7 linked regions of the Homo sapiens genome follow. The protein of the gene in region 1 purifies or fractionates together with the protein of each later gene. This does not show direct contact. Each region holds a gene or a part of one and is shown on either strand. Other genes may lie near its edges.

Region 1 (3,500 bases):
AGAAGATGCTATTTAGCAGAGGGGAAGGGTTAAAAAAAAAAAGAGTCCCAGAGTAGCAACATTCAAACATAATGGAACTAAAAGTGAAATGACTTCTTTTCTTTTACATCAATAATACCCCATTTTTTGTTTTTTATTGTCTTCAATTTTATTTTTTATTGTATATACTAAAGGAGTTCAACATGATGTTTTGATTCATAAGTACATTACGGAATGATTCAATCAAGCTAATTACCTTGTTTGTCACTTCATATACTTATGAAATAATACTTATTTCAACAAAATTATTTACATACAAAAATATACTTTGAGCTTCTGTAATGGTAAACACACTGTTGCTACATATTCATAACATACCTGTAAAACGTCATCATACAACCTGTGATGGTCATGTTCATGGGAACCTGGGCTGACATTCTTCCTATCAAAATCATCTTCTCACCAGTGTCAGGATGAAAAGCTGAATCATAGATGTACTTTGCTCTCCACAATTCATTTTCTGTAAGACCAGGAGGAACAATTCCTTGCCTAAGAAAACAACAAATAATATGGCAATTGCTCATTTCAAATATCTCCCCAGTGTCCTAGAGACAAGTGGCTACAAGGTTTTAAAAGTTTATGCTCTGGCTGGGTGTGGTGGCTTACGTCTGTAATCCCAGCACTTTGGGAGGCTGAGGCAGGTGGATCACAAGGTCAAGAGATAGAGATCATCCTGGCCAAGATGGTGAAACCCGTCTCTACTAAAGATACAAAAATTAGCCGGGTGCGGTGGCACCCGCCTGTAATCCCAGCTACTCAGGAGGCTAAGGCAAGAGAATTGCTTGAATCTGGGAGGCAGAGGTTACAGTGAGCCAAGATCGCACCATTGCACTCCAGCCTGGTGACAAAGCGAGACTCTGTCTCAAAAAAAAAAATTTATGCTCACCTAAAACACTTGTGCCTAGATGGAGTGACAAATTTGTTACATATAGTCAGTAAAAATTTCAAAACATACAGGACAATAAACACTTAAAATGAACATTTCAGGCTGGGCGCGGTGGCTTATGCCTGTAATCTCAGCACTTTGGGAGGCTGAGGCAGGAGGATTGCTTGAGCCCAGGAGTTCAAAACCAGCCTTAGCAACATGGTGAGACTCTGTCTCTATAAAAAAATAAAAATAAATAAAAACTAGTCAGGCATTGTGGCATATGCCTGTGGTCCCAGCTACCTGGGAGGCTGAGGCAAGAGGATCACTTGAGCCCGGGAGGTTGAGGCTGCAGTGAGCAGTCATCATACCACTGTACTCCAGCCTGGGCAGAGAAAGACCCTCTCAAAAAAAAAAAAAAAAAAAAAAAAAATCAAATCTATTCATCTCAAATTATCTGTAGTTTGGAAAAGCCAGAAAAGAAATTATATATAGGGAATAGGAAAGCATTCAATTTTGAAATATTCTTCAAGTGACATATTTTATAATGTATTTTGAATTTGTAAACTCTAAAATACTTTAAACAATTAGACAAAAGTTATGGTAATCAAGGATATTAATTCATTTTTATACCTATAGAATGAAAAGCTAGTTCAGGAAGAATTTTTTTTTTTTTTTTTTTAAAGACAGGGTCTCACTCTGTCACCCAGGCTGGAGTGCAATGGCATGATCTCAGCTCACCGCAGCCTTGAACTGCTGAGCTCAAGTGATCCTCCCACCTCAGTTTCCTGAGTAGCTAGGACTATAGGCATGCGCCACCATGCCTGGTTAATTTTTTTGCATTTTTTGTAGACACAGGATTTCACCATGTTGCCCAGGCTGGTTCTGAACTCTTGGGCTTAGGCGATCTGCCTGCCATGGCCTCCAAAGGGCTGGATTACAGGCGTGGGCCACCATGCCCAGCCTCAGAAGACTCTTGATGAAAAAAAAATTAGGTGCCTCATTCTTTACTTCTTCTCTTTATCAAAGAAGCACGTATTCATTGTCAAAAATTGAGAAAAAACAGGAATCCATTAGAGCAATTAAAATCACTCAAGTCTTTACCTACTCATCTCCACTGGTAATGTTTTCATGCATGTATTTTCAGTCTCTCCTCTAGAAGCTAAATGTGATGTGTTTACTTAAAGGCATCACACCAGACCTGCTGCTTTATAACCACCTTCTTTACTCAGTAATATACTGTAAACATTTCTCTCTGTCTTCAGATATTCTTCTATATAATCTATACTGGGTTGAACAGTGTCTCCCCCAAAATTCATGTCTCACCTGCAACCTCAGAATGTGACCCTATTTGGAAATGGGATCTTTGCAGATGCAATTAGTTCAAATGCCAAACGGCATACTGGATTAGAGTGGTCCCTAAATCCAATGAATGGTGTCCTTATAGGAAGGCCATGTGCAATCAGACACAGAAGAAGGCCAAGTAATGAAGGAGGCAGAGATGACAGCAATGTACCCATAAGCCAAGGTGCATCAAAACATTCCTAGAGCCTCTAGAACCTTGGAAGCCCCAAGGAAGGATTCTTAGAGGGAGCATGGCCCTGTTGACACCTTGATATCAGACCTTGAGCCTCCATAACTGTGAGGCTCAAGTTGGTGGCAATTTGTTATGGCAGCCTTAAGAAATTAATAGGCTGGGCATGGTGGCTCACGCCTGTAATCCCAGCACTTTGGGAGGCCAAGGTGGGTGGATCACGAGGTCAGGAGTTCAAGACCAGACTGGCCAACATGGTGAAAACCCGTCTCTACTAAAAATACAGAAATTAGCCAGTGCAGTGTCAGGCAACTGTAATCCCAGCTGCTCAGGAGGCTGAGGCAGGAGAATCACTTGAACCTGGGGGGCAGAGGTTGCAGTAAGCTGAGATTGTGCTACTGCACTCCAGCCTGGGCAACAGAGTGAGACTCTGTCTCAAAAAAAAAAGAAATGAATACACCAACTTTTTAAGTACTGTATAGTATTCTCCTACATGATTATAAGATACTGTAATATATACCAATCTCCTAGTGTTGGGCATATTAATTGCTTCTAATTTTACTCCATTTGTAAAGGATGAGGAAGTAAATAAACCCTCATACATAAATCTATCCCCACATCCAAGATTATTCTGAAAGAAATGAGTAAATATGCTGGAACAAAAGCTATGTACAACATTAAAACTTTGGCTATGTCTTCTATCTTTTTTCTCTACTTGACTAGTCTTTTTTTAAAAAATTACCATCCACAGCAGCATCATTGTTATTTATGTAATTTGTACGCGTATTTTATACACTGCGATTAACCCCAATTTTTATTTTTTTGGTTGTGTTATCTGCTGTCCTGAAAATTATTATTTTTATGTAATCAGGTAGGAATAAAGTTTCTATCTAGAAAGATTATACAAATGTTCACCGATATTTCTAGCATTCTCAGAATAGTTGTTTTCTTTTTGTCATTTAGGTTTTTAATGAATTTGGAATTTATCTTAATATGAAAATGTGGACCGAGCACAATGGCTTACGCCTGTAATCCCAGCACTTTGGGAGGCCGAGACGGGCA
Region 2 (4,245 bases), on another chromosome or scaffold:
AGGAGAACTGCTTGAACTCAGGAGGCAGAGGTTGCAGTGAGCCAAGATCGTGCCACTGCACTCCAGCCTGGGTGACAGGGTTAGACGCTGTCTCAAAAAAAAAAAAAAAAAAAAATTTAGTTTCATGTATAGAAACTATCTTTATTTTTAATGTTTACAGAACTGAGAACTTTTTGGATCTTTTATTTTACCTACTATTCTTCCATGATTAAAACTAAATTAACAAACGAAATAGAAAATGACTGGAGAATTTCAGACATCCAAAATTGATGTAAGACAAGTGATAATTAATTCAAATAATCCTCTTGATAACTACTTTTAATAGCAGCAGTGAGCTATTATAAATGATCATAATGAGAATCATCAATTTTTAGTACTGAAAGAAACAGAAGAGATCTAATATTTTAATCCTCTTATTCTACAGGGATGACGCTAAGGTCAAGGAGACAAAATGACTTTCCCAAAGTGACAATGCTGGAGAGCCCACTATAAAGCTTACAAATCCTAGTTCTAACACAGTCCATAAGTTCTTCTACTATCCAGTCATAAACCTTTTAGAAAATAGGTAATGCTTCACTCTCCCATAGGAAAGATCATATGGCTTTCTCATGGCCTAGCACAATGCCTCACACACTGCAGATACTAGTTTGTTCATTCCTACACCAAAACTTCCTTTAAAGCTAATTTGACATCCTAGTAAAAATATCTTCGCCCGGGCGCGGTGGCTCACGCCTGTAATCCCAGCACTTTGGGAGGCCAAGATGGGCAGATCACCTGAGGTCAGGAGTTCAAGACCAGCCTGGCCAACACAGTGAAACCCCGTCTCTACTAAAAATACAAAAATTAGCGGGGCATGGTGGCGCGCGCCTGTAGTCCCAGCTATTCCGGAGGCTGAGGCAGAACTGCTTGAACCCAGGAGGCGGAGGTGGTGGTGAGCTGAGATCGCACCACTGCACTCCAGCCTGGGCAACAAAGTGAGACTCCATCTCAAAAAAAAAAAAAAAATTCAACCTGAATAGTATAATATGGAAATGACTTGCATACATATTTAAGTGTATACACTTGGATACAATTAGAAGTTACTTGACCAACTGTATATACTTATGTATAAAACTGGGAGATATTTGACCAAACGTTTCTCTGACCTCGACTTACTCTGGTACTACCATTGAACAACTCCAGACCCAGAGAAAATCCACCACACCCAATCCCAGTATTGTCAAATGCAGCCAGACTAATTCTCTGCACAGCTGTCAGATACCAAAAGGATTTAACAGTCAGTTCACCAAAACCATACAAAGCAGTTCACTAAATAATCCAATGCTTGGCCTCACATCAGAGAAACTGTATCATGCATATTAGGCTTGGTCATGTACATTTCCAGGTGAAATGGAAAAACTGAATTTAAGATGCTTCCAATCAAAAAGTTTAAGAAGTCACTCCCATTTTTTTTTTTTTTTTTTTTGTATGTGTGTGTAGGCCTGGACCTGGGGCAGGGGGCTGTGTGCAACCAAGCCTGGTGAGCATTGCTGTGGCCGCTACTCTTGTGCAGCAAGAGGGGACAGTGCAGTGCAGAGCGTTTTCTGACAAAGGCCAAGGGGTCCGGAGTGCAAAAGGACACCTTGGGGCTGGGGCATGGCAGGAGAGGTTACGGGCGCTGAGTGCTTGCAGCCAAGGGGGCTTCGGGGTTGCTGAGAGAGGACGAGCCTTGGGAGCTTGACAGTTCTGCTTACAGTTCAGAGGCTGTAAAACAAATGCCACTGAACACCATTTCACTCTTTAGAACCTGTGTAGTCTTTCTTTTTCTATGTAGAAAGCCATCTAATCGTTTTTGTTTTTGTTTTGCTTTTGTCAACTAACCGTCACTGTAGTTGCCCACTTACCCCCAGCAAAAACACACTCCAAAAGGGGGAGTGGCTCATTATTAAAAGGCTCTTAGCGATTAGGTTGTAGGCTTTGGAAATCACAGAAACAGTTCGTATCACGATGTACCAATTGTTAATCGAATTTAGCTTCCTTCACTTATTAAATACAATCATCACATTTGCAAATGCCCCACTCCCATCTACAACACTAGGGATAAATGCTGTGTCACTGAGAAGAAAAGCAAAGGATTTTTCTGAAACCAAAAGCAAACTGTCAAAGAATGCCAGTAACCTGTCATCGAGCTACTCTATGCCCTCCACTGGCAGCCAGAAATGAGTCTCCCTAAACCCAAGTGTTGTGCTGCCGCTTGGCAGCTTCCGTCTGATGGGAAGCCCCCTCACTGACACAACCCGCCAAGGAAAAGCTGCACGAGCCAGTTTCCTCCTCTACGGCCTGGGGCTGCTTCTCACCATGTCCAAGTGAGCACCGGGACCTTCAGGGTGTCCGCTGCCCGGGGCCGGACTGGCCCTGCCCTCCGGGGTCTTCCGTTCGCTGTTGCGCTTCAGGCCGCTGGCGTCGCCCCGGCCTCTGGCCTCCCGGCGCCGTTGCTGCCGACTCCACAGGTATATGGCACCCGCGCCCAGCAGCAGGGGTGCCCCGACCGCCAGAGCCAGCTGCCATCGCGGCAGCCCCCCCGTGCCCGGGCCCGCAGTCCCGCCGCCGCCCACCCCACTCCCGGAGCTCGGTACAGCGGCTGCGACCACCGCTGCCTCCACAGGTTTAGAGGCGGCCATGACAAGTGTCCTCTGCCACCGCCTCCCTGTCTGTCGCGAGCGCCACAATCACCAAACAGCGTGCGAAGGAAGACCGAGGGAGGGAAGGAAAGCAATGAGCGAGCGAGCACGCTAGGCAGAGAGAGCGGACGACAGAAAAGGGCCAGAGGTCACCGGAAGCCCAGGGCATGCCGGGCCAGACCTGGCCGTCCTTCTCCTCCAGTATCAACCGAAGAGGGAGAGGAGGGGCGGAAATCACTTCCGGGTTAAGGGAAAGCGTGGGTGTGAGTAGGAGTCTTCGGAAACCCTTTTTCTTTCTTTTCGCCCCGCTGCTGTTCGGGAGATGGACTTCTGGAGTCCCCGTCGTAGCTGGTGTTGTCCCCTCTACCTTCAGGAAAGAAGGGCAGATGGCCCTCTTGCCTACTGAAGCCGAGGAGGGGCGCGTATACAGCGGGCTAAGGGCGCTCAAGAGATCCGAGTGGAAGAAAAAGCAGCGGCACAGCACTGGAATGGGCGGGAGTGGCAGAAGAGTTGTGAAGGCTATTGGCTAGCAAGGGTGGTGGGCGGGGCGTAGACCGAGCTACCCAGTTTACTGGTCGATTTCGGATCCAGTTTTCCAGTTATAGCCACGTTGGCACCTCTTGAACCTCTGTGGCCGTTAGCACGGTTTTCTGCCCGCGTGCCCGAGAAACCAACGGATTAGAAGGACTTTTAAAGATGTGTGAGGAAAGAGCTCACCGCTGAAGAAGGCTGCTGCATCACTGAACTTCTTATCACTAACATAGCGAGATTTTAGTTTGGACGAATTTGAGGTTATAGGGGAGATAGCGATGGCAGAAGACTAGGTGGAAATGGCACATCTAGGTTGGCTGCAGTCGAAACGGTTTGAGCGTGGTCGCTGTGGCTCATCGTCGGCACCAATTAACGAAGCGATGACATCTGCGTTGTTAGGGGTTTCTTAAACTGAGTTGGTAGAAATGCGAAGCGTCAGGGTTCCCGCCGGCTTCGAGCCTTTCTTGGCGTATTTGTATCTTGAGCTGATTTCTGCGTCAGCCCACATCTCGCTCTGATCCGCACGCCCCCCGGGTTGTTTTGCAGTAGCAGTCTCAGCCCTCTTCTCGTCTCATTCCCAAATCGTAATTTCAGTTCACAGCTTTTTATCTATAATAGCTTTATCAACTCTTTTTCCGATGCTCTGCACCAGATCTCTTAAAATATAAAATTACCTTGCAAGGTATTGTTTGGAATACACGGTATTTTCATGAAGACAACTATTAATAGAAAAATCAGAGTCCAGAACTATGGTTCTCCATTTCTGGTATACTGGTTTGCAGAAGCCTTACATTAAGATTTCATAAATGATTGTTTTGCTGTTAAGTGCAACAACATCACAGTAGAGCTACATAAAGATTGAAAGGAGATATTTTATCAAGTGGCACCAGAATGGACTGATTAAAATAGAATGGCCTAATTGGAAAGAATTTCAGGATCACCGGTTTCTCCTGCTTCATGTAAGTTCCTATTAGTAAATTGCCTTCAGGCAATAGGGTTTCTTAGCAACAGACTAAAAAAATGGGCTAAAAATAGCAGTGGAATTGAGTTGATC
Region 3 (3,500 bases), on another chromosome or scaffold:
GCAATGAGCTCAAGAACTACAAAAAGCAATTCATGCACTCAAAAGATTTAAAGATCCATAGATTTCCATTTAATGCCACAACAAACAGCTCAGGGACAGGATCAAGCCTCTGCTCCCTAAAAACCTGAAAGAACTATACTGTCTCTTTAAAGGTGCACAAATGAATACCTTTGTGCCAATCACTAGGGTTTATATAAACAAACAAAAAAGGATAACTTCAATTATTCACTTAATGGGGCTGTATCAGTGTTAGCCAGTAAGAGCCATTATGATGGAGATATGAACAGGATTCCCACCTATCTTCTTTTTTGTTGTTTTTTTTGAGATGGTCTCACTCTGTCACCCAGGCTAGAGTTCGGTGGCACAATCTCGGCTCACTGCATCCTCCACCTCCCGGGTTCAGGCGATTCTCCTGCCTCAGTCTCCCAAGTAGCTGGGATTACAGGCGCTGTGCCACCACACCCGGCTAATTTTTGTAGTTTTGTTTTGTTTTGTTTTGTTTGAGACAGAGTTTCGCTCTTGTTGCCCAGCCTGGAGTGCAATAGCACGATCTCAGCTCACTGCAACCTCCGCCTCCCGGGTTCAAGTGATTCTCCTGCCTCAGCCTCCCGAGTAGCTGGGATTGCAGGCAGGCATCACCATGCCCTGCTAATTTTGTATTTTTAGTAGAGATGGGGTTTCACTATGTTGGTCAGGCTGGTCTTGAACTCCTGACCTCAGGTGATCCGCCTGCCTCGGCCTCCCAAAGTGCTGGGATTACAGGTGTGAGCCACTGCGCCTGGCCCCCACCTATCTTCTTATACGCAGTAATAGATCAAATTACTTAGTTCAGAGACTAATACTAATATCCAAATCTGAGTCTCATTATAATTAATTTCTCATATATTTATAGTCTCCTGGTTGTTAGAAAAGTTTAAGCCAGAAAAATGAAGCAAAGACTTACATCAAGCTAAGGCAAAGAATGCAATTTTAGTTAATGCCACTGCCCAAAAGTGCAAGCGTATATTAGTGCTTACAAAATTTAAGCTCTTAAAAGAAAAGCTGATACTAATTACCACACACACCATGATTCACATGTATAGATGAACATGCTATATGAATAAAGGGAAAATCAATTAGAGAACCAGCAATAATTCAAAACTAAAAGATAAATCTGTAGTATTTCAAATACTGTGTTGAGTTTATGTGTTTTTCCTAGCACTTCAAAATATACATTCCAGTTATAGGAAATTAACTATAGCAATCCTCAGTCCTTCAATAACTAACTGATCAAAACCAAATATAATTTATATGAACATGCATTTTAACTTTCATGAAAAATGGTTGATTTTTCTATCAAACAATTTTGGATACACCATAAATTTGATGTATAATTACAACTAAATGTTAGAGAACTGCAAACAACAACCATTAGTAACTTAGTCTTATTTCTGATTTTTTCCTCCTAAGTTCCTTGAATAAAAGAATGGATGGGGCCGAGGTGGGTGAATCATGAGGTCAGGAGTTCAAGACCAGCCTGGCCAAGATGGTGAAACCCCGTCTCTACTAAAAATACAAAGATTAGCCTGGCATGGTGGGCACCTGTAATCCCAGCTACTCAGGAGGCTGAGGCAGAGAATCACTTGAACCTGGGAGGCGGAGGTTGCAGTGAGCCAAGATCCCACCACTGCACTCCAGCCTATGCGACAGAGTGAGACTTCATCTCAAAAAAAAAAAAAAAAAAAAAAGGCTCACACCTGTAATCCCAGCACTTTGGGAGGCCAAGACAGGCAGATTACTTGAGGCCAGGAGTTCAAGACCAGCCTGGCCAACGTGGCGAAACTCCATCTCTCCTAAAAATACAAAAATTAGTTGGGCGTGGTGGAGCATGCCTGTAATCCTAGCTACTAGGGAGGCAGAGGTTGCAGTGAGCCGAGATCCTGCCACTGCACTCCAGCCTGGGTGACAGAGCAAGACTCCATCCCAAAAAAAAAAAAAAAAAAAAAAAAAAAAAAGAATGGACAGAAAGTACCTCAAATAGTACATGGACTACTGATGCTCACTGACATAAAATAATTACTACTAGCTTAATCAGTGTAAGAAGAGAGGCAAGTATTGAGGGCCAAGAAGGAAAAACTTTTTAATTTTACTTACATATATATTTATATACACACATAATATAAATTTATTTGGACCCTTTAAAGAAGCCGCAATTTTAATTATAACGAATACTCCTAGTTTAATAAAGACAATCCATAGTTTACGTATCATATTGGTAATTGAAATTAACTTTAATTAAGCATGGACTAACAGGATCCCTCGAACATAACTATGGACTAGGAGTGTTTACTTGATACAACTAATGGGCCCATCTCTTTTTTTCCATGCCTTCAGAACCTACACACAGGAAGTGGAAATCACCTAACTAAAAGAGCTCAGTCCTCAAGGCTCCCAGGAACAATAGTTCAAAATCTGAATGTGACTTCTATCTGAAGCTATTAATATTATGCAGCTATCCTGGTCATTTTGTCAATGAAATGTTTATGAAAGATCTACCTTTAATATGCCTCATTTGCTCTAAACTATCACTCTATATACCTTTCAAATAAAAGTAAAACAAGGTTTTTCACCACATAGGCATCAAACAGAGACACCATGCTTGCCTTCATGAATGTGGAAGATTCCCTGTTTCTTGGGGTTCTGGGGTCCTTGAGTCAGTCCTCTTCCAGGAGTAAGCTGCCCTTTGCCCAAGGCACAAAGCCTATAAAACAAGATAAAACACAGAGCAGATCCCACAGCTTCTTCCCTGGCAACCCTAAAGACCTACCCTCCTCCCAGAGTATCTGGCCATATCACCCTTAGTATATATTGTCTTGTAGGAGTCTGTAGCTGTTTCACAAGTATATGTATGTTTTCATGAGGCTATTCCATAAATCATCTCTCCCACTAGAGTAAACATTTCTTGAGAGCAGAGACCAATTAGGTAATTATCTACAAAATAAATAAAAGACGGCAACTAGGTTTAATGCATTTATTATTGGTCTTTCTATTTTATTAGTTTCAGAAGTCCATAATCGATTTAGTAAACAACTGAGCAAACTCATTATGAACAATTTATTCTGTTCTTTATTATCGCACCATATTTCCTCAATAAATAAGATAAACCCAATTATAAAGTAAACTTTGAAAATTGAATTAGCCCTTTCCAGATGCAAAGAAAGTATTTATTTAACTTACGCAGAAATTTTCTAGAGTCCCAACACAATAAAATAAAAGCTATCTACTGGCCACGGTGGCACAGGCCTGTAATCCCAGCACTTTGGGAGGCTGAGGCAGGTAGACAGGTTGAGCCCAGGAGTTCAAGACCAGCCTGGGCAACATGGCAAAACCCCATCTCTACAAAAAATACAAAAATTAGCCGGGCGTGGTGGCATGCACCTGTGGTCCCAGCTACTCAAGAGGCTCAGATGGGAGGATCACTTGAACCCAGGAGGTCGAGGCTGCAGTGAGCCAAGATTGTA
Region 4 (3,500 bases), on another chromosome or scaffold:
TTTACAAGGGTGCCAAGACACTCACAGGTGAAGGAACAGGCTGAAAGAAACAGTGCTATGTCAACTGGATAGTCACATGCAAAGGAGTGAAGGTGGACCCCCTATATCACACCATATTCAAAAATTAACTGAAAATTGATCAAAGACCTAAATGTGAGAGCTAAAACTATAAAACCCTTAGAAGAAAACACAGGAGTAAATCTTTGTGACTTTGGATTACACAACGATTTCTTAGCTATGTGATACCAAAAGCATGAGTAAAAAAAGAAAAAGATAAATTGGACTTCATCAAAATTAAAATGTTTTGTGCCTCATAGAATACCATTTGAAAAGACAACCCACAGACTGGGACAAGTCTTTAAAAATCATATATCTGATAAGGTATATATATAAAAATAACTCTTTCAACTCAAAAATAAAAGATAACCCAATTAAAAAATGGGCAAAGAGCTTGAATAGACATTTCTCCAAAGAAAACGTATGTATATGGCCAATAAGCCTATGAAAATTTACTCAACATCATTAGCCATTAGGGAAATGTAAATCAAAACCACAAGCAGATACCACCTCATACCCACAAAGATGGCTAAAATAAAAAAGACAGACATGGCAAGTGTTGGTAGGAATGCAGAGAAATAGGATTATCATACGTTGCTAGCAGGATTGTAAAATGGTGTGGCCACTTTGAAAAAGTGTGGTGGTTCCTCAAAATGTTGAATATAGAGTTACCATACGACCCAGCAGTTCTCCTCCTAGGTATACACTCAGAGGGAATGAAACCACACATCTATACAAAAACTCATACAAGAATACTTACAGCAGCATTAGTCACAATAGCCAAAAAGTGAAAACAACCCAAATGTTCATCAACTGATGAATGCATAAACAAAATGTGGTGTATCCTTATAACTGACTATTACTCAGCACAAAAAGGAATGAAGTACTGATAGATGCTATAACATGAATGAGCCTTGAAAACACGCTATAGGTGAAAGAAGTCAGACACAAAAGACAACACAGTACATGACTGCATTTATGCGGAATGTCCAGAATAGGCAATTTTTTTTTTTTTTTTTTGGACAGAGTCTCGCTCTGTCAACAGGCTGGAGTGCGGTGGCGCAATCTCGGCTCACTGCAACCTCCACCTCCTGGGTTCAAGCGATTCTCCTGCCTCTGCCTCCTCATAGCTGGGACTACAGGTGTGTGCCACCACGCCCAGCTAATTTTTTGTATTTTAGTAGAGACGGGGTTTCACCATGTTGGCCAGGATGGTCTCGATCTCCTGACCTCGTGATCCTCCTCCCGTCTCGGCCTCCCAATGTGCCAGGATTACCGGTGTGAGCCACCACGCCTGGCCCAGAATAGGCAATTTTATAAGGAAAGAAAATTACTGGTTGCCAGTGTTAGGAGGAAAGGGGCATGGGGAGTGACTGCTAATGGCTATGGGGTTTATTTTTCAGCTGATGGAATGTTCTGGAATTAGTCTGTACAATCTTGTGACTATACTAAAACAACTACATTATACACTTTCCATGGTGAACTTTATGGTGTGTGAACTCTGCCTTAATAAGAAAAAGCAAAGAGAGCAAAGTGCATCTAAGTGACTATACAAAATTTTTAATGTACAATTAATGCCAACAATATATGTCCTTTCAGCTTATGAACAATGCACTGGAAACATGGGCTCTTTGCGTCCCCGAACTTTCATAATTTTTAAGCATCATTAAATCACCTCAACTTGATATTGCTTGAAAAAGTCTGTGCCACCGTAAATCCGTAACCTGTTTAGACGAAGTCTGGAGCCAACACAAACATTCAGCATTTTTCCAGAGTACATTTTCCTACCACATTTAGAAAACCTGTTTATTATAAATGTAGTTATCGCTCTGAATTGGAGTAATACATGCTAATATCTAGCCTCCTGAACCCAATTTCACGCTGACCTTCTAGGCTGAATAATAAAAGCAGTAATGTAATCATCCTCAGGGCGCTTTCTGTGCATCTCGGCACCTATCTCAGTGTTCCGCATACATGTGTGCACAATTGTATATATGAGAACACTTGTGTGCACAAGCACCTGTCTCTCCACTGATCCTTAAGAGATGGAGCTCTGTCTCACAGACTTGTGCATCTCCAATGCCTGGAACGCATCGGGAAGGACCAGATCAAGGTTTATTGAATAAATTAATAAACCCAATTATGTAATTAATCCTCTACGTACATGCTCTTTCTCTCTCTTATCTGTGTCTCTCTCTCTTTAAATCACTTTCTTAAATGTTGTTTCTACAGACTTTCCCAACAGTCGTCTGGGAAAGATGGGAGGGTGTTACAACCGGAAAACGACAGGTATACCCCTAGATCATGCAGCTATTTAGTAACTAAGCTGGTACAAAAAAGCAGACTGCCCTGCAGTGTTATTTTCATTTTTTAATTTTTTAAACAGACTGTCGCCCAGGCTGGAGTACAGTGGTATGATCAGAGCTCACTGTAGCCTGGAACTCCTGGGCTCAAGCCATCCTCCCACCTCAGCCTCCTGAGTAGCTGGGACCACAGGGGCACACCACCACGCCCAGCTGATTTTTATATATATTTTTTAAGAGATGGGGTCTTGATGTGTTGCCCAGGCTGGTCTTGAACTCCTGGGCTCAAGTGATCTGCAGGCCTCAGCCTCCCAAAGTGCTGGGATTATGGGATTACAGGCATGAGTCACCACGCCCAGCCAGCTGTTTCAACTCTTAGGGGTGAATAAATCAGAAAAAAAAAAAAAAATCCAAGGTTTTAGACTCTACTTACGGTTGTCTGAAATCCAGCAGTATTACCTATCTGACAGTGATAAAATCTGACATACCTCCAGATCCAACTGTTTCACCACTGCTGTCTATGTTGATCTCCCCTGAGGGTTCGGAACGGTTAGATGTCTGCCTTTGGTAGGAAAAAGCTTTAAAAAAAAAATTACAGTCATTAAGCTAAAAATGTGTTATACTTTTAATAACATTAGCAGGGCATGTTACTCATTTAAGTTACAACATTATTACTGAAATGAATTTCAACCTCTCTCATGAAAAAAGTACAATGTTAAAGCAGGTAAATAAGGAGGTAAGAAAAACATTTTAAATATTCCACAAATTTTTAAAAGATAATCATTCAATATTTGAAAATGTATTGATCCATTACCTGATGAATTTCTCAGTAAGGTACCAGGGTGACTCTCTATTACAGAAAACGTAGGACCTAAAAACAAGAAGAAAGATAAGAAGGAAGAAGTCAGTATCATAAACTGAGTAATTATCCACGGAGGAATCAAAATCAAGATAATTAGGCTCAAAGACAAGGCAGACAGATTCTAAATTGCTGACAACTGATAACGTTCTCCTTGGGTATGCATTGAAACGGAGATTCATCCTAATACGACCAATGCCCACCAATGCAAAGCAACAGTAAAGGTAGCCACCAATGTCACCTCTCAGATATGAACATCTGAAATACTTTTAAAAGGCCTT
Region 5 (3,500 bases), on another chromosome or scaffold:
GGAGCTGGGGATGTCCCCTCTGTTGCTGTCTCCACGGTGGGAAATGGGCAGCTTGAAAACCTGATAGGAGCAACTTGGCTCTATCTATCAGAATGTGAAACATGCCAGCCCCTCAGCCCAGCTGTCACGCCCCTTGGACCCTGCTCTGCACCGACACCAGAACGAAGGCACAGGCACATTCACAAGGTGTTCACGGAGGCACCGATGGTGATAGGAAAACGCCGGAAGTTAGCGATGTGATCACCAACAGGGGACTGGGTAAACAGACCCCACTCAAAAGACCGAGGCCCAGCATGAACCATGCCACATAAGAATAGTGAAGAAAGTAAATGGCAGAATTCTATTTGTGGGATGATGTCATTTGTATGAAAACATAAAGTAACTAAACAGATAACAGTGTGCATTCCATCCAGAAATCGGTATACAAAAAATACAGCCACATGTATGTCTGAGTGTATGTACAAAATGAACATCTTTATGCAGGGGAAAAGTCTGGGAGGACAGACAGAAAGGCATGTCTGCAGAGTGGGGTGAGGAGGAACAGGAATGTTTACACTTCAAGAGTGCTGTACCGTTTGAATTGCTAGTAAAGAATGCAGGTCAATTTTATAGTCAAAAAACTAACATCAGGATGCTTAGGAGATACAGACTGAAACACTGAAGAATAAGGCACCAATGACTCAGCAATAATAAATACATAAGACGTGAATATTTTATCCATGTTATAGAGAAAGGGACAGAGAGAAACGGGAAAATTTGTTTGTTTGTTTTGTGTGTGACAGAGTCTTGATCTGTCGCCCAAGCTGGAGTGCACTGGTGCAATCTTGGCTCACTGCAACCTCCGCCTCCCAGGTTCAAGCAATTCTCCTGCCTCAGCCTCCCGAGTAGCTGGGATTAAAAGTGCCTGCCACAATATCTGGCTAATTTTTTGTATTTTTGGTAGAGACAGGGTTTCACCATGGTGGCCTGGCTGGTCTCCAACTCCTGGCCTCAGGTGATCCGCCCGCCTCGGCCTCCCAAAGTGCTGGGATTACAGGCATGAGCCACCACACCCCGCCCTTATGTTTGAAATATTTTTAAAATAAAGTTTAAAATATTAAATAAACAAAAATAAAGATCAAATGAAAGACAGTCAAGTTCCTGGGAAGCCCACTGCAGATGCAGATAGCAGAGGCCTGGATGGACCTGCAGTATCTTGGCAGGGCCTATGGCAAACCAGAAAGGGCTAGCGTTGAAACCCAGGTTCTAAATGGCTTTATTTTTTCCATGACTTTTTCCTCCTAATATTCAATGTCCTTGCAAGACTGATGGATCCTAGGGTTTGAATCCACAAAGAATCAAAAATGCAGTTTATGGTCTGACCAAGGGACTGAAGAAAGCCTGCGGTTGATCCTGGTGACCCCCCGATTGGCGTTTACAGTGCAGCCATGCCATGGCTGGGGGACATGGCTCAAGATGGAGTCCCTCCTCTCATGATCCAGCCACAAAGGCTTGCCTGAGTCCTTGGGAAGGTTCCAGATCAGGCTTCCCGTCAGACGCTGTCCTCACCTCCGATGATCTGCTCCAATGGCATCTGTGACTCCGCCAAAGCCCTGCTCTCTGGAAAAAGAGCAAACAAAGCAATTTCAGCAAACAGTGGAGAACAGGCCCTGCTCTTACAGGAAGCCCACGTTCACCCAGAAACGCATCATCCCGGCCCAGGCACATCTGGTTTCCTCTACACTCTTCACCCAGAGACCTAGGGATATTTCTACCCAGGTAGGAACAGAGCAGGAAGGAAATTGCTTTTAAGTATTGACAGCTCCCAACATTGAACCAGTGTTGCTTAATTAATGGGAATGCTGATGGGATTCCTCAGGCTCCCCTCCCTTGAGCAAATGGACAACTCCACCTTAGAAACACCATTGCCTTGGAGGTTAATCCTCAGTTCTCCTTGGCATTGTTTGTCCTTCATCAAAAGAGTAACCCAGAATTTCTCTCCCCTTCAGAGTGTACCCCTCAACTCCTTTTTGAATGAATAAGAAACAGATCAACAGTATCTCGTTGACTTGAGTGATCTAAATGAACCTCTGCCTAACTTCTGTTTCAAGCCACACATGACCTCACTCACTTCAGAAGGGCCTCCAGTTCCCGCTTGACTTTGCCCACAACGGGTGGCCCCCAGAAGGTGAGGGCCGTGTACAGCTGCACCAGGGAGGCCCCTGCCCGGATCTTCTCCAGCGCGTCCTGCCCGCTGCTCACACCACCAACCCCAATTATGGGAACTCGGCCTACAGAGAAGCACATGGCGACACCATAAAGAAGGATGTGGCTTCAGCCCCAGAGTCCCCCACAATCAAGACAGATTAGGGAATGATGATTCCCATCACGACCCAGGAGCCCAAGCCACACGCAGATCTGAAGACACAAACACGGGAAACCTTGCCTTGGGTGAGTGCATACATCTCCCGAATGGTTTGAGTTGATAAATCCCGGAGGGGCTTCCCACTCAGCCCTCCTGTTTCAGAGCGCAGGGCACCCTGGAGGCCCGCAGGGCGACTCACGGTGGTGTTCGTAACAATCAGCCCATCGATGCCCAACTGCAGTGCGAGATAGAGAAAAAGCCATGAGTCATAGCACCGAAGGACCCAGAGGCGCTTCTCTGGAGGTCGAAGGCAGCAGCCGGGCCAGGTACCCACACCTACAGCCCCCAAAGCAAGAGCTACACCAGACCTCACTACTCATCTTTTCCTCAACAAGTTTTAGAATGAGCCATAACATGACGACAGCAGCCATCACACGCTGACCACCCACAACATTCCCCTAGGACAGGGTCCAGTCCTTACAACAACCCAATTACAGTGTCTTGTCTGAGGCCCCCAGGTAGTAAGTGGTGGAACCAGGATTTGAACCCACGATGGCCGGGCTCAGTCTGTTTCCACTACTCTCCTATGCCACAGAGACCCGCTGTCCAGACAGGCTGGAGAGAGGAGTGAGAGAAAGAATTTTCAGTCCCAGTCAAGACTGGCCAAGGAGCCAAGCTCAAGCCTTAAACTTGCTGGATGCAGTTGACAAAAGAGAGGAAGAGGCATTAGAAAAACTCCTTCAAGCACTTATTCCAACATTCGCTTTTGACCACAGGGTGAGTTACACCATGACACACACCAAACCAGCCTTGAATACCAAGGAGAGGAAATCACAAAGAACGCCATTCTGGGCTAGCCCAGCTGGCCAAACGGCCTCTGCAGACCATGGGAGGCACACCCTGGGCCCAGGCCCCGACTCAAACCTCTTTGACCACACTGGCAATGTCCTCCTTATCCTGGCTGGTGAGGTCAGGAGCGATCTTCACCAGGACTGCCGGCCTGTGCACTCTCCGCAAGCCATCCCTCTCCTGCAGCACCTAGGGCGACACACGGCCAGAGCTGGGGACCCCGCAGACCACAGCCCTGCAGTGCAGCTGTGACCTACGCTGCAGGTCAGTGGGTTTCCACAATAGCGATCAAACTAAAGCAGAAACA
Region 6 (2,541 bases), on another chromosome or scaffold:
GGATTGGCCTGTTATCTTCTTTAGAACTAAGTTCATCTTAAAAATTTAAGAAGGTGGACATTTCAACACCATCAAGTGCATTTAGGTGACATGTTTAAGTTAACTTGACTTCCTTGAATGACCTAGTTAGTAAACTAGTCACTAGTAATTCGGTCACCAAGCAAATCAAGCCTGCAAGAAAGGAAGCCAATATTCAAAATGCCATGTTACCATCTAAACCCATACAAATTAGTTTATTTCCAACAATAATAGGTAACTTTAATAATAAGACATCTAACTAAAGCAAGCTCCTCCAACAAGACCAAGACAGCATCTCTTCTTCTAAGGCTTAGGTTTTGCCCAGAATTCCCGATACATGGAATAGCCCATACCTAAAGAAAAAGAATGCTAGTTAAGCATTTCAGTATTTTCTTAAATATTCAAAAATAAAAACCAGTTCATAAAATAGCTGAAAGTAGCACCACTGCTAGCATGGAATATTTACAAGGGGAATAAGACCCTAGGAAGCTTATACTCTTGCCTTCTTAAACATCTTAAATCTCTAAAACTCTTGTTACATACAGTAGTTTCCCAAGTAGCAAAGGGCTGGTATGGCTACTTCACATGTTACAATATTTCTTTGAAAGAACAATCAATATTTATCTGGTAACTTTGAAAGGAATCACTCTTGCTACATAATACCAGATAAAGTCAATGAATTATAAAGCCAATAGAAGAAGCATGTAATACCTAAACTTTAAGAATCTCTCCTTTAAAAACACAATAAAATAGCAATTGTATGTCTCTCCCAGATAACAGATGTTACTATCAACCCCAATTACATGTCTAGGCTCTTCAATGAAATTATAAACTCAGTGATTGACAGGATTTTTTTTTTCTTTAAAATCTTAGTAGGATATATCATAGAAAAACTATGTCACTACTTGAATTATCTTCATTAATTCATTTTTTACATGAAAATGAGTATAAGTGATATTCTCCAACTGCTAAAAGGTCAGCTAAAAATATTTACCTATTTTGTTTGTAAAGAAATACCTTAATGAGAAACGAAAATTTGAAATTTCCTATAGGAACCTACCAACAGTCATTGCTCCTACAACAAAGCCTTGGGCTGCCACACGCATGTGGATCAGATGAATGGACATTTTAGTATTTCCCCTGCTCTTCAGTTTATATAATCCATATGCAACAATTGCTGCAAAACCCGCTATTCCTGTAAAACAAAGTAACAAGTATGTCAGATGCATGAGAAGGGACCAAGATGACTTTACCATCAGTCAATGTACATTCTATTATTTTTATGAGGATTCTTTATCAGATCATTAATTAGCTAACATACAAATTGAGTTTTTCATGTTTTCCCCTATCAAAACCAAAAATCTTTAAGCAAACAACAACAGATCCAGAAAGTCAGGATTATCTTTAAAAACATGGGTTTGTGGGGCCAGTAGATAAACTCCTTTAAAAAACTGCTAGGGAATTAACAGGAACCTAGATTATGATTATCAGAACGAAAGTGTGCCAAAGGTCTTGACTTAGAGAATGAATTTATTCCATTTCCTCTCTGTCCTATTTCCCTCCCTCAAGGTAATCAGTTAATATACCAGAGACAATCCTACACACTACTACCACTGAGAAACATTGCCTGAATATTTCAAACTTTGGGATATTGTACTGGGAAGAAGTAAATAAAGGAAAAGAATAGAGCAATATTAGTTTCAGTTAAAAGGATTATGATCCTAGAGTTCTATACAGAGCCAAACTCTCATTCATTTTGAGGGCAAAAGCATTCAGGACATGACCTTCCATGTTTTCTTTTTAAGATTTATTATTTTATTTTTTAAGAGATGGGGTCTTGCTCTGTTGCCCAGGCTGGAGTGCAGCCGCACAATCATAGCTCACTGCAGCCTTGTTCTCCCAGGCTCAGGTGATCCTCTTCGCTCAGCCTCCCTAATAACTGGGACTACAGGAGGGCTGTCTTTCCCAAGCTGCCACCCAGGTACTGATACAAAAACCTAGAGGAAAATATCCAGTCAAATAAAAACAGTGAGTCAAAATGGACAGTTCAAGAAATAAAGACATAATGGTTAAGATATAATGGTGAGCAATAAAGACAGAAAAATCTGTACTGGTTCCTTGAAAATGACTGGTATAATATAGCAAAATTAAGAATCTGAAATTAGGCTATGATTATCACAACAAAACGTGTGCTAAAGGTCTTAGGGAATAAATTTATATTCATTTTAATACAGGAAATAGATGAAAAAAACACATCCTAGTTTGACAATGTAAAGATAACCACCAGCAAGCAGTGTAAGAATAGCCGCAGAACTTCCAAATCATAAGGAGGAAAAAAAAATTAGGGCTGGGAGCAGTAGCTCACACCCATCATCCCAGCACTTTGGGAGGTTGAGGCAGGTGGATCACCTGAGATCAGGGGTTTGAGACCAGCCTGGCCAACAGCCTGGTCATCTCTACTAAAAATACAAAAAATTAGCCGGGCATGGTGGCATGCGCCTGTAATCCCAGCTACTTGGGAGG
Region 7 (3,500 bases), on another chromosome or scaffold:
TGATAGAGTAGCAGCAGGGTTTTAGAGAACTGACTCCGATCTTGAAAGGAGCTCCACTATGGGTTAAATGCTATCAAACAGCATCGTATGCTACAGAGAAATCTTTTGTGAAAGGAAGAGTTGATCGATGTGGCAAACTTCATTGTTGTCTTATTTTACAAAACTGCCACAGCCAACCACCATCCTGATCAGTCAGCAGCCATCAACAAGGAGGCAAGACCCCCCACCAGCAAAAAGATTATGACTCACTAAAGGCTCAGATGATCATTAGCATATTTTGCCAATAAAGTATTTCTAATTAAGGTATATACACTTTTTAGGCATAATGTTAGTGTACACTTGAGACTACAATATAGTGTAAACACAACTCTTATATACACTAGGAAACCAAAAAGTTCATGATTTGCTTTATTTTGATGTCCACTGTACTGTGGTATCTGGAGCCACGTCTGCACCATCTCCCAGGTGTGCCAGTATCACCTTTTCCCTTCCTCTGAGCCCCCTGACAACACACATGTGCTTCTCAGAGAAGTACTACACCTCCTGCCTGCCTATCCTGATGGTTTTTAAATACCTTGAGGGCTAAGCCTGAATCTCACTCATCTCTGTACACCTCCAGTGCCACACATACAGTAGATAATCAAATACTGCTTGACTAATTTCACCTCAGTTCCCCTAATGAAGACTGGATAACCAAAACTCTCATTCATTTAGAGGATGTGAAATAGGCCTAAGGGTGTCATAAAACAGTTTACTGAGATGAAACAGCAAGCTGGGGATCAATCCAGGATAAAAATCCTTAAGAGTTCACTTTAGTAAATATTTATTAAGTGCCTAATATGTGCAAGGCATCATAAAACACAGCGGAGGGAAAGACATTAAAAATTACTGTAAGACAAAAGACATGATCAGCAACTCCACTTCCAGAATATCTCACTGAGAAAACTACTCCCCCATGTACACAGAGGCATGTGGAAGGACACTCACTGTGACACCGGAGGAAATAGGGAAAAAAGAAAAGGAAATCACATAAACATCCAACAGATAGAGAACTGACTGAGAAAATTTCGGCATATACATCCTATAGAATTTTATGGAACCATTAAGAAAGAACAAGGTAGAATACACATACACTGTCACGGAAAACACATGAGATATACTGCTGATTGTTTAAAAAGTCATAGAATTTTTTGCACATCTCAATTTTGCAAAAAAAAATGCAGACATACAAATATAAATGTTGCTGAATTTGAATATATGCATATACACATATCCGCAAGTGTGAACTGCATTTGGATTTCACATGCATGCACATAAGACACATATACAGATCTGCTCCAAGGAGAAATCTACAAAACTGCTTAGCAAAGTACTCAGAGGATGAGGTCCTGAAAGTGGGGACAGGAGCAGCTGGGGCAGGATTTTCACTTTTGGAACTTTTGCATCTTAATTTTTTTACCATGAACATTTCCTTAGTAACAAAAGATTGTAATAATAATAATAATAATAGAGTCCCTGTAGTATTTAAGATATATACAATCAAATAACTAGTTAATGACATATGACAAGAGAAGACCAAACATATCAATGGAAGGGAATAAGGAGGCCATAAAGAAACCTTTATCTCTATGGTCAGTTGATTTCAACAAGGGTGCCAAGATGGTTCAGTGGGGAAAGAGCGGTCTCTTCAACCAATGATGCTGGGACAACTGGATATCCCTTGCAAAATAATATAGTTGCACACCTACCTTACACCATATACAAGAATTAATACAAAACAGATCCGAGACCTAAACATTAAGAGCTAAAACTATAAAACTCTTATTAGAAAACAGAGGGCTAAATCATTATGACCTTGGCTTTGGCAATACGTTCTTAGAGATGACACCAAAAGCATGAGCAATGAAAGAAATAAATAAATAATTGGACTTTTTCAAAATTTTAAAGTTTTGAGTACCAAATGACACCATAGGGCAACTGAAAAGACAACCCACAGAATGGGAGAAAATATGTACAAATCATATACCTGATAAGGAACTTTTATCTAAAACATATAAACACCTTCCAGAATTGAATAATAAAATGAAAAATAATCCTACTTAAAAATGGGCAAAGGATCTAAATAGAAATTTTTCCAAAGAAGATATACAAATGGTCAATAAGCACAGGAAAAGATGCTCAACATCATTAGTCTCTAGAGAAACACGGGTTTAAACCACAATAAGGTACCACATCACACCCACGAGGATGGCTATAATTAAAAGGTCAACGTGTAAGGGTCAGCCATAGTGGCTCGCATCTGTAATCTTAGCATTTTGGAGGGCCGAGGCAAAAGGATCACTTGAGACCAGGAGTTTGAGACCAGCCTGGGCAACACAGTGAGGCCCTTTCTCTAAAAAACAAAAATTTTTTTTTAATTAGCCAGGTGTGGTGCCACATGCCTACAGTCCTAGCTTCTTGGGAGGCTGAGGCAAAAGGATTGCTTGAGCCCAGGAAGTCATGGTTACAGCGAGCTATGACTGTGCCACTGCACTCCAGCCTGGACAACAGGTGAGGCTCTGTTTCTAAATAAATAAATAAATTTTTAAAGTCAAATTATAATAAGTATTTGCGAGGATATGGAGAGTTACCACTTGATATGGCAATTCCACTTCTCATTGTACACCAAAGACAAATGAAAACATGTGTTCACATCAGCATTATCTGTAATAGCCAAAAAATGGAAAGGACCCAAATGTTCATCAACCAATGAATGGATAAGTAAAATGAAGTATATCTATACAATGGAGTATTATTCAGCCATAAAAGGGAATGAACTACTGACACATTATAACATGGAGAAACCTTGAAAGCACTACGCTAAGTGAAAGGAGTCAGACCCAAAAGGCCACACTGTGTGGCGTATTCCACAACAGGCAAATCTCTAGACACAAAAGTAGATTCGTGACTGCCTTGGGCTTGGGGAAATGCAGGGACCGGGGTGGGGACTGATAGCTACAGGGTAAGTAGGATTTGGTGGGGAGGGTGGGGGGTGGGGGTGATGAAAATGTTCTAAAAATGATTGTGGCAATGGTCACACATACCTGTGAATACACTAAAAACTATTAAATCACATGCCTTAAATGGATGTATTGTACAGCATGTGAATCACATCTCAATAAAGCTGTTACAAATAAAAAGGGAGAGAACACCAAAAACAAAGAGAAGCAGCCCAGACAGGAAGTCAATGAGAACAGCACAAGGAGGGATTCCAGTGGCCGGAAGCAGCCAAGAGAGGGATGGGTTCCCTAAGGCAGGCGCAGACTTAGACACAGGAGAAGCTCCATCCCATGGGCGGGACGGCAGCGATGTCTGCAGAAGGCAGAAGCTTCATAGCCTAGGGCAGGGCACCGGGGAAGAGGCACAGACAGGAAGAGACCGTGCGCCTGCCGCCATAGGTTCACTTTGGAAGGCGTGGGGTGGAAGGACTTGGATGAAGCCAGCACAGAAGGAAGCTTGGA

Evidence for each region.
Region 2: the proteins of SFXN1 (region 1) and TOMM70 fractionate together in Homo sapiens (co-fractionation; one large-scale study listed by BioGRID). This does not show direct contact.
Region 3: the proteins of SFXN1 (region 1) and ACOT9 fractionate together in Homo sapiens (co-fractionation; one large-scale study listed by BioGRID). This does not show direct contact.
Region 4: the proteins of SFXN1 (region 1) and NCAPD3 purify together in Homo sapiens (co-immunoprecipitation; one large-scale study listed by IntAct). This does not show direct contact.
Region 5: the proteins of SFXN1 (region 1) and DHODH purify together in Homo sapiens (affinity purification with mass spectrometry; one large-scale study listed by BioGRID and IntAct). This does not show direct contact.
Region 6: the proteins of SFXN1 (region 1) and HIGD1A purify together in Homo sapiens (affinity purification with mass spectrometry; one large-scale study listed by BioGRID and IntAct). This does not show direct contact.
Region 7: the proteins of SFXN1 (region 1) and CHCHD6 purify together in Homo sapiens (affinity purification with mass spectrometry; one large-scale study listed by BioGRID and IntAct). This does not show direct contact.

The regions. Positions count from the first base shown.
Region 1 is NC_000005.10:175,506,060-175,509,559, reverse strand, and holds part of SFXN1 (sideroflexin-1), read right to left. Parts: intron 529-3,500; coding exon 358-528; intron 1-357. UniProt on the Homo sapiens protein: Amino acid transporter importing serine, an essential substrate of the mitochondrial branch of the one-carbon pathway, into mitochondria.
Region 2 is NC_000003.12:100,398,290-100,402,534, forward strand, and holds the start of TOMM70 (mitochondrial import receptor subunit TOM70), read right to left. Parts: upstream 2,801-4,245; 5' UTR 2,661-2,800; coding exon 2,337-2,660; intron 1-2,336. UniProt on the Homo sapiens protein: Acts as a receptor of the preprotein translocase complex of the outer mitochondrial membrane (TOM complex). Recognizes and mediates the translocation of mitochondrial preproteins from the cytosol into the mitochondria in a chaperone dependent manner.
Region 3 is NC_000023.11:23,733,277-23,736,776, forward strand, and holds part of ACOT9 (acyl-coenzyme A thioesterase 9, mitochondrial isoform a precursor), read right to left. Parts: intron 2,741-3,500; coding exon 2,643-2,740; intron 1,092-2,642; coding exon 1,065-1,091; intron 1-1,064. UniProt on the Homo sapiens protein: Mitochondrial acyl-CoA thioesterase. Catalyzes the hydrolysis of acyl-CoAs into free fatty acids and coenzyme A (CoA), regulating their respective intracellular levels. Regulates both mitochondrial lipid and amino acid metabolism.
Region 4 is NC_000011.10:134,199,968-134,203,467, forward strand, and holds part of NCAPD3 (condensin-2 complex subunit D3), read right to left. Parts: intron 3,232-3,500; coding exon 3,175-3,231; intron 2,939-3,174; coding exon 2,849-2,938; intron 1-2,848.
Region 5 is NC_000016.10:72,022,244-72,025,743, reverse strand, and holds part of DHODH (dihydroorotate dehydrogenase (quinone), mitochondrial), read right to left. Parts: intron 3,383-3,500; coding exon 3,269-3,382; intron 2,580-3,268; coding exon 2,426-2,579; intron 2,271-2,425; coding exon 2,111-2,270; intron 1,600-2,110; coding exon 1,545-1,599; 3' UTR 1-1,544. UniProt on the Homo sapiens protein: Catalyzes the conversion of dihydroorotate to orotate with quinone as electron acceptor. Required for UMP biosynthesis via de novo pathway.
Region 6 is NC_000003.12:42,784,950-42,787,490, forward strand, and holds part of HIGD1A (HIG1 domain family member 1A, mitochondrial), read right to left. Parts: intron 1,214-2,541; coding exon 1,079-1,213; intron 372-1,078; coding exon 322-371; 3' UTR 1-321. UniProt on the Homo sapiens protein: Proposed subunit of cytochrome c oxidase (COX, complex IV), which is the terminal component of the mitochondrial respiratory chain that catalyzes the reduction of oxygen to water. May play a role in the assembly of respiratory supercomplexes.
Region 7 is NC_000003.12:126,721,240-126,724,739, reverse strand, and holds part of CHCHD6 (MICOS complex subunit MIC25), read right to left. Parts: intron 1-3,500. UniProt on the Homo sapiens protein: Component of the MICOS complex, a large protein complex of the mitochondrial inner membrane that plays crucial roles in the maintenance of crista junctions, inner membrane architecture, and formation of contact sites to the outer membrane.